Homo sapiens: one gene and its partners. The protein of the gene in region 1 purifies or fractionates together with the protein of each later gene. This does not show direct contact. Each region holds a gene or a part of one and is shown in the gene's direction. Other genes may lie near its edges. The genes, in order: DNAJC4, MCCC2 and CACTIN.

Region 1 (3,745 bases):
CCACTGTACTCCAGCCTGGGCGACAGAGCGAGACTCCATCTCAAAAAAAGAAAAAAAGAAAAAGGAGTAAGTGGGAGTCCCAGTCACTAAATTGACTTCTCTTGGGTGACCTTGGGCAACGTGTTCAATCTCTCTGGTTTTGGTGTACCTGTAAAACAAACATGCCCATCATCTGACATTCTGTAATGCTGGGTCCTTGATCTACAAGCTATAAAATGCTGTACACAGGTAACAGGCGGTTTTTCATTGAGACGGGCAGGGATGTGGGCAGTGGCATTGATAGGTGGGACCTCCCCCCACCCCACCCTCCACCGCAGGTGAACCTGCCGCTGCTCACCCTGAGCCAGCCCCTGCTGTTGGGCATCGCCCGAAATGAGACCAGTGCTGGCCGAGCCAGTGCCGAGTTCTATGTCCAGTGAGTAGGCTCGGGTACATGATCCTGGGTCTTGGGAAGGTGGGTGGTGAGGAGTGGGCTGAGGCAGCTGTGGCTCCACAGGTACCCCGCAGGGGCTGGTCACCCACTAAGCCACCCTTGTGTTCTTGTCCAGGTGCAGCCTGACTTCTGAGCAGGTGAGGAAGCACTACCTGAGTGGGGGACCCGAGGCCCACGAGTCTACAGGAATCTTCTTTGTGGAGACACAGGTGCAGAGTGACAAACCATCTTGCTTGGAGGCCAGGGCTGGGGCCTGCAGAGGCCTGGCAATGCATATCTTGTAGGGGAGGTGTTGGCTGGGTCACAATTCCCTCCAGAGTCACAAGATTTGCCCTCAGTGCAAGGGAAAGGTCCAGGGACATGTTCAGCCCCTTAACATGCCTCCCTAAGGACAGTGCAGAGGTCTCTGAGGCTCAGGAATTCTGGGCACAGCCCTGGCAGGAGAAGTGGCAAGCTTGAATGCCTGGGTCTCGTTGTCTCCCCACAGAACGTGCAGAGATTGCTCGAGACGGAGATGTGGGCTGAACTCTGCCCCTCGGCCAAAGGCGCCATCATCCTCTACAACCGGGTTCAGGGAAGTCCCACTGGAGCGGCCCTAGGGTCCCCAGCCCTACTCCCGCCGCTCTGAAAATAATAAACGACTTTATTCTTGGATTCCGTTGGCATCTGCTATTTCTGTAACAGAGAGGAGCAATGGGCCCTGAGTGTGTAAGGCAGGACAAGTGACTTGGGAAAAAAAAAAAAAAAAACCCGCCCAGCCTGTGTCCCCCTCTGCAAGCAGGGGATAAGAACTGTGCCTCCCTTTCTTTGCTGGCTCCAGAGAGGCTCCGGGGCGGAAGCAGCTCCGTAAGATATACCTCGCTGCAGAGGGGAGCAACAGCGGAACGGAGACACGGTGGCCGGGCCGAAAACGTCACAAAGCCGCAGAGAGCGGGCTCTGTCCCGCCCGCTCCCCAGGTGGGCGCCCGCGCCTGTCCAGCGAGTCCGCAGGCTGGGGGACCGGAGGCACCAAAGGCCAATAGACATGTAGGGGCGGGGTCTCCACCGATTTTTTTTTTTTTCCTGACAGGTGGACGTGGTCTTGGCATCCACGCCAATGAGAATGTGAGGGCGGGGCCTGAATAGACGCAGGAAATGGCGACGGCCGCGGGTCTGTGAGCAGCGGGGGCGGGGCCTGGTTGTGGCCCCTCCTTCTCCCGTCCCCAAGTTCCCTGGGTGGGAACGGGGTCTTGGGGTCCCTGGCTGGGTGGCCAGACCCCGAAGCCAGCGCTGGGAAGGGCTGCGGATGCCCGGGTCAGAGGAAGGGGCAGGTCCAAGGACACGCGGGTCTGGTCCTGGGCAAGAACCGCCCCCTCTCCGGGCCTGCTTCAGTCTTCCTTTGCAGAACAACGGGCCAGGCCCCTTCCCTCTGCCCCCGGGTGCTTGAAGTCTAGCCCCATCCTGGTCCAATGCGCTCTTGGTAGCCTCCTTTCCCAGCTGCCCGCCCGCCGCCATGCCGCCCTTACTGCCCCTGCGCCTGTGCCGGCTGTGGCCCCGCAACCCTCCCTCCCGGCTCCTCGGAGCGGCCGCCGGGCAGCGGTGAGTTGGGCGCGGGGGGCCGGCCCGGTTGTTCAATGGGTTTCTGTTTGCCCTACGTGCTGAGTTAGTTGTGGTCTCTACTCCGTGTCAGGAGGCTCCCAGGTTTGTCTCAGGTAACCCTCGCCTTCCCTGCTGAGGATCAGAGATAGAGAAGACCCCCAAGGTCATACACCGATTTAAGCGGCAGAGGAGGAAGTTTGAGTCCAGGTCAAACCCAACGCTCTTACCACAGCTCTAGTGGTTTCCAAGCATCGCTGTATCACTGTGCATAACCCTCTGTGGGGGGTGGGAGATGGGGAGGTGTCGGGTACAAAATCCAGATTCCTGGGCTCTGCTCTGGAGATTCTGAACTGGAGGAATCAATTGGGTGGGGGTCAGGAATCAGTTTCTTTCTCTTTTTCCTTTTTTTTTTTTTTTTTTGAGATGGAGTTTCGCTCGTTGCCCAGGCTGGAGTGCAATGGAGCAATCTCGGCTCACCACAACCTCCGCCTCCCGGGTTCAAGCGATTCTCCTGCCTCAGCCTCCCGAGTAGCTGGGATTACGGGCATGCACCACCACGCCCGGCTAATTTTGTATTTTTAGGAGAGACAGGGTTTCTCCATGTTAGTCAGGCTGGTCTTGAACTCCCGACCTCAGGTGATCCGCCCTCCTCGGCCTCCCAAAATGCTGGATTACAGGCGTGAGCCACCGCGCCTGTCCAGGAATCAGTTTTTTCCAACAAGTTTTTGGACTCCACTTTGAGAAATCCTGACCTGCACTATGCCTGAAACACTCCAAAGGGGGTGCTGATCTGGAGACAGATCTGTCCTGGGACCTGTTTCAGCCCTGTCAGCTCCTGGTGGCTGAGTTGAAGGGTGTGGCCCAGAAGGCAGGGCAGAGCTAGCTTCTGGGTTCCTTCAGCCCCTGCAAGGTTTGGGACTCTGTCCACAGGTCCAGACCCAGTACTTATTATGAACTGTTGGGGGTGCATCCTGGTGCCAGCACTGAGGAAGTTAAACGAGCTTTCTTCTCCAAGTCCAAAGAGGTACCCGTACCCCTGAGGTGGGGAGGGGGAGCAGGAACTTTGAGCCAGTGGGGGTGTGCTTCAAATTCCCAGGAGTAGACCAGCATCTCTGGCGGGTGCCACATTTTTTCAGCCCTCATAGGGAGTGGCAGGTGCTCAATGGTAGGGGAAAGGCTGTGGGCAGGAGCCAGGGGTCCTGTCTGATGGGCTGGGCTTGGTTTTCTTGACCTGCCTGCCTGCTCTTGAGAAACCTGGACCAGGGCATATGGTGAATGCAGGGGGCTGGCAGGTGGGGAGGGCTTGAACACAGGAGGAAGCAGGAGTCCATGCTCTCTGGCCTTCTGAGGAGTGGGCAGGCCTGAGTGAGGGTCACTGACCAGGCAGGGCCTCTGGGTATGACTGGAGCCCTGGTGGGTGGATGTCATCAGCATGGGTCCTGGGGAGGGACAGGCAAAGGGAGATAAGGGGAGTCCTGCCCCACCCCAGCTGCACCCAGACCGGGACCCTGGGAACCCAAGCCTGCACAGCCGCTTTGTGGAGCTGAGCGAGGCATACCGTGTGCTCAGCCGTGAGCAGAGCCGCCGCAGCTATGATGACCAGCTCCGCTCAGGTAGTCCCCCAAAGTCTCCACGAACCACAGTCCATGACAAGTCTGCCCACCAAACACACAGGTACAGTAATCCTGCCCTCAGCTTGCCCCACCCCCAGGTCTCTTGGGTAGTCTCATTTCC
Region 2 (3,645 bases), on another chromosome or scaffold:
TTAAGCAAAAAAGAGGATATATTGATTCTCTTATCTGGTGAGTCTGGGCATGGCTGTATCTGGGAGCTCAAATGGTCTTAGGTATTACTAGGTCCCAGGCTGTTTTCTACTCCTGGCCCTGACTTGCTGTGTGTCAGCTTTGTTTCTAGGCAGCCTCTCTAAATCCAGAGGCAGTGATGGTCATAGGCAGTTCCTGGTTTATATTCTATAAGTTTAGCAGCTGCAGTGGAAGGCAAGATCTGCTTAGGCTTAGAGCCTGTCCCATTGCCGAGCCTCAGTGGGAACTCTGGGTAGAAAGACCTGGTCCCTGTGCCCCCCTTTAAGGCAGGCTCTGGGGTCAGTCCTACTTGAGCCACCTGGATTAAAGATAAGAGGCAGTTTCTGAAAGAAGGTTTAGTTTTGTTGCCAAAATAATAGATGCTGGGTAGGCAAAACCAATAGAAATGCAATCTAGTATTTTTGTGGGCCAATTTGATTTCTCATTCTGTAACAAGTCTGTGACCTTTAATAGACAAGCAGATATGGCTATGTCCCTTGTCCATGGTCACATAACTAACAAGTTGGCAGAGCCAGAATTTCAGTCTAACTTTGTCTGACTTCACAGCCTGGCCTCTTTCCAGTACCAGAGCTTCTTAAACTTTCTAGCGTAGCACCCCCAGTGGTAGGAAGTATGAGCACACACTCTGGAGTGTGAGGTTATGGCCCAGCAACCTATGAGAAGCCTACATTTCCTTTGAAGTCTAGTTCGTTTAATGTTAAATCATTAAAAGTTTGCATTCTACTCTATAAAATGTTCATTGCAGTGCAGAAAAAGGTTTTATATGACCTAGGGAATAAAATTGATGCTCAAAGAAGAGTCCTGTTTGTCTTGTGGCGAGCCCTGCTGGCCACATATCCTAGTATGAGAAGCTCAACACTACCCTGTGCTGGGTGTTCAGTTGCCGTTCTCTATTTTCAGCAGGGATTTAATGACTCACTCTTTAGAGTTGTAGGCAGCATAAAGTGAGGTAACACAAACATCAGAAACATAAAGAAAATTGAATTTTGTAAAGAGCACACTGTTGTCATCTCAGATTTCAAGGGTACCTCTGACCTTAAGGTTTCCTGCCAGTGCTGTACAGTTTCCCCAACCAGCTGTGGTTGTTGGCCGCCCTGCTCTTTGTGACTCATACCCAATAAACTGGTTTTGGTGAGAAAGGGCACTGTTGATGACTCAGGATACCTTTCATGTGTTTTTAGTATATTAAAGTTTGCATTCATTCTGACTTCAGTTAAGATGAACGTTATATTTTAGACTACATTTAGTTTTGTAGAAAACCATGGGGCTGTAATGTTGAAGAACAAGAATACAAAAAATAAATCTTAGTACTAAAGGTCAGTTTTCATTTTTGCAAAATACCCTCCTAAAAGGAGACTTTGAAGGTTTATTATGAGGGAATTCTTTTCCCTTGAGACTTGGATTTTTTTTTTCATTATTATTTTCATCTTATTAGGACCTTTTCATTCAAAGAACCATTATGACACAAGGCTTAGGTTGTTAGTTTTTTATTACTAATCTAGGACTGATGACTTTTCAAAAACCAAGTGTGAGTTTATAAACTTGTTAGAAGTAATTGTTTTGTATTATATAAATTAATATGTGAACTGTGATTAAAGTTTGCATTTATATCCTAAGACTGCTGTCTGCTAATGGATGTTAATAGTGATACGTACTAGAAGTTGAAGGTTGTATTGGGGTATCTTGTAATGAGTGTAATTAGTTTTGAAGAAATCTCTTAAATTCTCTCTCCAATGAAATTTCTGCCTTTCAGAGTAGAATGCATGATTATTGCCAATGATGCCACCGTCAAAGGAGGTGCCTACTACCCAGTGACTGTGAAAAAACAATTACGGGCCCAAGAAATTGCCATGCAAAACAGGCTCCCCTGCATCTACTTAGGCAAGTCACCAGAGTGGTAAAATAAACTATTATTAGCTGGTAAAATGCAAGATAGTTTGGAAGGCTGTATGTATTACATTTGGGATGGGTATTTTATAAACCTGTTGATTTCTCCTGTAATTATAAAGGAAACACAGGTTCTTTGCTGAAAACTCTGGGGGAAAGTAAACAAGAACTGTTCATAGTACTAGTGCATAATACTCATACATTTTGACGCATGCCAGTTTTTTTCTCTATGTGTTGTGTGGTTTTTTTTTTTTGTTCTCTAGATCCTGTTTTTCTTTTAACTTTATGGATCATACTATGAAAAAAATAGTAGCAAGTATTTATAGATCTCTTGAGTGCCAGGTACTGAGTTAAATGTGCAAGTATTATATAATTTGAGCAGATGTAATTTAAAGTAAATTTAATTTCCAGTGAAAGTAAACTTATATTTGAAATTAAAACACATTTAAATCAAAGAACCTGAAAGCAAAGCAGTTTAAAATGGGCCTTTCCTCCGGGCGCGGTGGCTCACGCCTGTAATCCCAGCACTTTGGGAGGCCGAGGCAGGCGGATCATGAGGTCAGGAGATGGAGACCATCCTGGCTAACACACTGAAACCTCGTCTCTACTAAAAAAAAATACAAAAAATTAGCCGAGCGTGGTGGCAGGCAGCTGTAGTCCCAGCTACTTGGGAGGCTGAGGCAGGAGAATGGTGTGAACCTGGGAGGCGGAGCTTGCAGTGAGCTGAAATCGTGCCACTGTACTCCAGCCTGGGCGACAGAGAGAGAGACTGTCTCAAAAAAAAAAAAAAAAAAAAAAAATGGGCCTTTCCTGATACTGGGTTAGTCTGATAAAATTCCAACATACGTTGTTCATGTATGCAGGTATTTGAACGGGTACTGATGTAGAGGTATTTTTTGTTTTGTGTTTTTCTGTGAAGTTGAATTTACCTGATTAACTCACAATACGAACTGCTCTGCACGTAGAGAAAACAGCAAATGAGGCCCAGCTGCTTGTAGGTGCTGTGCTGGTCTTTATAGGGGATACAGTGAGGAGGATTTTGTTGTCTCTGTCTTCAGCGAGCTCATAATGAATTGGACACAGCATATAATGTGCAACCAACAAAAGACTTAATGGTTGCAGATTCTGAACTAAGTGCTTTCTATACATTTTTCAAGTCATCCTAATATATGATATGGCTCCTTTTTTTATCTTCATTTCGTGGGTAAGGAAACCGGGGCATAGGATGGCTAGGAAACACACCTATAATCACACAGCTGTGAAGTCATGAGCTCTGCTTTGAACGCAACTGACCTGTGTACCCACCACTCCAATCTGCAATGAAAACAGTATCAGAAGGCAATATGTATAAATTATTATATGAATTCTGTGGATGGCTTTTGTATTGGTTTAGAAGAAGGAAAGATACTTTTCCACCTTAACTCTTTAAGAATTTATGATGTTTCTGGGGCTTTAGCTGGTCCTCAAAGGAGAGAAGGTTCTAACCATTTCGAGAAGAATTTTGCACAGAGGTGGGAAAGCCTGATGGGTTTGGGGCAATGAATCCTTTTGGCTGCATTGGGGGTTTGGAGAACGAGGCTCTATAACAGTTTAGAAAGACAGGGCAAGTTTTTTGTGAATGTGATTAAGAACTGATGCTGTCATTGATACAAGTTTCCCTCTGCGTAGCACATTTAGTTCATAGAGATGCTTATGTTTCT
Region 3 (3,645 bases), on another chromosome or scaffold:
CCCGCAGCCCTGCAGACCGCACGGTCCCCGCTGCCCTCAGCCTCCTGTGCCTGCAGGTGAAGCAGCTGCGGCTGGAGCGGGAGCGGGAGAAGGCCATGCGCGAGCAGGAGCTGGAGATGCTGCAGCGCGAGAAGGAGGCAGAGCACTTCAAGACATGGGAGGAGCAGGAGGACAACTTCCACCTCCAGCAGGCCAAGCTGCGGTGCGCTGGGGCCTCCCCCTCCCTCCGACCCAGACTTGGAGCCAGGGCCGGGCACTGGCTGTCACTCTGGAAGCCACTGCTCTCCCACCCTTCAGGGTCCCACACGGCACTTCCTGGGACCTTCCCTTCCTGACCCCTTCCCGGGCGGCAAGGCTTCTGTCTCCTGCCCTCCCCTGCTGGGCAGGGTGCAGAGGAGACGGGCCCAGGTGAACGGCACCCCACGCATGCTGGACGCCAGTCCTGCACTGACTGCAGTTGTCCCTCCCACACTCCACCCAGGAGGGTGGCACCCCCATCCGCCTGGTTTACAGACAAGCTGAGGCTCCGGGGTGTCCCTGCTTGCCTTGGGCCCCGTGGCGGGTGACATCAGGCTCCTCCCAGCTCGGGCCTCCCTGGTGACGGGTTCCCTTGGGTTGGACCAGGGCCCGCCTGCAACGCGTACCCCCCTGCAGGCCCAGAACAGAAACCCGGCTCTCTGCCCCGAGTGGTCTGCCTGGGGGAGGAGGTGGTTGCAAGGCAGTGACTACTCTGGTCCCCCAGCCTGCCTCTGCTTCAGCTCCTCCACTCTTCCCCATCACAGCCCACATAGAAGCCGCCATCCTGGGCACATCCCAGAGGCCCTCCAGGAAGCCCCTCCCACCTGGCCCACCTCCGGGTCCACGCTGCTTGCACTTTGTCTGCACTGCTGGCCTGCGCCCTTTGGCTGACCCGGCTCACTCTACCTTATGCCTCCTCCTCCTCCTCCTCCAGGAAGCCTTCCCTGACCACCCCCAACGGGTCAGGCCCCTCCTCGGCTCCCACTGGTGTGGTCACCCCAAGGGCAGGGTCTTTAGCATGGAGGGCACAGCCCAGGCTCTGATGCCACCTTCCCCTGCTCCCCACAGTTCCAAGATCCGCATCCGGGACGGGCGGGCCAAGCCCATCGACCTGCTGGCCAAGTACATCAGCGCTGAGGATGACGATCTGGCCGTGGAGATGCATGAGCCCTACACGTTCCTCAACGGCCTCACCGTGGCCGACATGGAGGACCTGCTGGAGGATATCCAGGTACCCAGCCCCACCCGATGCTCCTCTGACCTGCACCCTCACCCCCACCCCAGCCACACCCGTGTCCTGACCCCTGCCCCCTGCCCCCAGGTCTACATGGAGCTGGAGCAGGGCAAGAACGCCGACTTCTGGCGGGACATGACCACCATCACCGAGGACGAGATCTCCAAGCTCCGCAAGCTGGAGGCCTCGGGCAAGGGGCCAGGTAACGGCGGGCATGGGCCTGGGCTCCAGGGGAGCTGCGGGGGCTACAGTGTTCACCCAGAAGCCTCAGACTTGCTGTGGGGCCTGGTGCTCTCTGCAGGCCTCGGTTTCCCCAACTGGGGCCTCCCCTTCTGGGCCGAGCCACCAGGGGGCAGCAGCGGGCAGTAGGCCCTGGGAGGGATGAGTGGGGCGGGCCTCTGTCTGGGGTGCAGGGCCAGCAGCGTCCAGACCCAGCGTCCCGTTAACGCTGACTCGGCGGTGCCGGCCTTATGGGAGCCACGGGGCTTTCCGCTCAGGTTTCAGTGCTCTCAGTGGCTCTGCCTGTTTGACAGCAAGTCTCGCTCCACCTGGCCTGAAGGCCGTGCAGCCCAGCTTCAGGGCGCTACCTGTCCCGTGCGTCAGTTCGTGCCCCTCCAACCTGATGGGCTTTTAAAATCACGTTTCCCCCCCCTCCGTGTGGTTGCACACACATGGTCACCGGGGATGCTCTAAAGCGTCTACCCTGAGCACTGCGGACATGCGGGCTGGGCCGTTCCCTAGGGTGGGGCCGTCCTGGACACTGCTGGGTGCTGAGCAACGTCCCTGGCCTCCACCCAGGGTCAGGAGCACCCCTAGTCCTGACAACCGCAGATGTCCCCAGACGTTGCCCAGAGTCCCCTGGGGGCAGAATTGCCCTAGATGAGACCCCCCCCCCCCCCGGTCTAAAAGCCAACCACAGCAGCCCTGCCCCCTCCCCGCCAAAATCCACGCCCCAGCGGCTGCTGTAACAGTGCCTGGCTCTCATGGGCCACGCATCCCTGTCGATAGACCCGGTCCTTCCCCTGCCCTCCCTCTCAGGCCTTGGGTGCCATCATGGTGGCCGAGGATCCCAGGAGGCTGGGTCAGTGTCATTTGCAGCCCTCAGCGTGGTCTGTGGCAGGTCCTTCCTAGGAAAGAGCCTGTGGCTTTCCTCTTTTTCAGTGGAGCTTTGTGTTCCCCGGAGGTGGAGTTCACTCAGCCATCCTGTCCCTCCAGTGGTCTCCTCCGTGGGGCACATTCTCCCGTAACCTCAGAGAGGCAGGGCAGTTCTCCAGCATCAGAGGTGTGTCCGTTAAGGGTCTTGGTGTGCTCCTGCTGGTGGCAGCGGGGCTGGGCAAAGACTTCTGGGTGCAGTACATTTTCCTTCAGAAGCCGCAGACCCTACCCACCGGCTGCAGGAAGCCTGGGAGGCGTTTCCAGCGTTGCCCTAGGCCCCGCCCTCTCCTGTAAGACTGGGAGGCGTTTCCAGCGTTGCCCTGGGCCCGGCCTCTCCTATAAGCCTGGGAGGCGTTTCCAGCGTGCCCCACTGCCCTAGGCCCCGGCCTCTCCCATCCCTTCCATGGCCTTCTGCCTCCACCACGTCGCTCAGCCCTCCTTTCCCCTCACGCGTTACAGTTGGGGACCCCAGGTGGCTTTGGTGTCTTCCGAGGGAGTTTGTTTCTGATTCTCCTTTCAACATGGTTTCCAGGAGTAGGGAACCGAGGGGTCTTGACTTTGCTGTCCCCCTGGAGACCCACAGAGCCCCTGTCCTGGATCTTCTTAAATTAATTGGGGTTTTCCTTTTACTTTTCATTTTTCAGAGACAAGGTCTCGCTCTGTCGCCCAGGCGAGAGTTGAGTGGCGCGATCAAGGCTCACTGTAGCCTCGACTTCCTGGGTTCAGGTGATCCTCCCACCTCAGCCTCCCTAGAAGCTGGGACTACAGGCGCTCACCATCACACCCAGCTATTTTATTTTTTGAGAAGGAGTCTCACTCTGTCACCAGGCTGGAGTGCAGTGGTGCGATCTCTGCTCACTGTGACCTCTGCCTCCCAGATTCAAGCGATTCTCCTGCCTCAGCTGCCCAAGTAGCTGGGATTACAGACGCGCGCCATCACGCCCAGCTAATTTTTGTATTTTTAAGGAGACAGGGTTTCACCATGTTGGCCAGGATGGTCTCAATCTCTTGACCTCATGATCCTCCCACCTCAGCCTCCCAAAGTGCTGGGATTACAGAAGTGAGCCACTGTGCCCAGCCACTTCTGAAAATTTTTTGTAGAGATGGGGTCTCACTGTGTTGCCCAGGCTAGTCTTGAACTCCTGGCCTCAAGCAATCCTCCTGCCTCACCTCCAGAAGGGCTAGGATTAAAGGCATGAGTGACTGCATGCTTTTTCTTTTTAATTTTTACAAAATTA

What was found.
Region 2: the proteins of DNAJC4 (region 1) and MCCC2 purify together in Homo sapiens (affinity purification with mass spectrometry, with the first as the bait; one large-scale study listed by BioGRID). This does not show direct contact.
Region 3: the proteins of DNAJC4 (region 1) and CACTIN purify together in Homo sapiens (affinity purification with mass spectrometry, with the first as the bait; one large-scale study listed by BioGRID). This does not show direct contact.

The regions. Positions count from the first base shown.
Region 1 is NC_000011.10:64,228,930-64,232,674, forward strand, and holds the start of DNAJC4 (dnaJ homolog subfamily C member 4), read left to right. Parts: upstream 1-1,618; 5' UTR 1,619-1,925; coding exon 1,926-2,011; intron 2,012-2,238; exon of another isoform or gene 2,239-2,441; intron 2,442-2,941; coding exon 2,942-3,035; intron 3,036-3,500; coding exon 3,501-3,685; intron 3,686-3,745. Other genes in the region: uridine diphosphate glucose pyrophosphatase NUDT22, read left to right, coding at 318-415, 549-642, 921-1,061.
Region 2 is NC_000005.10:71,600,695-71,604,339, forward strand, and holds part of MCCC2 (methylcrotonoyl-CoA carboxylase beta chain, mitochondrial isoform 1 precursor), read left to right. Parts: intron 1-1,811; coding exon 1,812-1,939; intron 1,940-3,645. UniProt on the Homo sapiens protein: Carboxyltransferase subunit of the 3-methylcrotonyl-CoA carboxylase, an enzyme that catalyzes the conversion of 3-methylcrotonyl-CoA to 3-methylglutaconyl-CoA, a critical step for leucine and isovaleric acid catabolism.
Region 3 is NC_000019.10:3,616,684-3,620,328, reverse strand, and holds part of CACTIN (splicing factor Cactin), read left to right. Parts: intron 1-56; coding exon 57-202; intron 203-1,086; coding exon 1,087-1,249; intron 1,250-1,339; coding exon 1,340-1,454; intron 1,455-2,413; coding exon of another isoform or gene 2,414-2,499; exon of another isoform or gene 2,500-3,645. UniProt on the Homo sapiens protein: Plays a role in pre-mRNA splicing by facilitating excision of a subset of introns. Required for the splicing of CDCA5/Sororin, a regulator of sister chromatid cohesion. Involved in the regulation of innate immune response.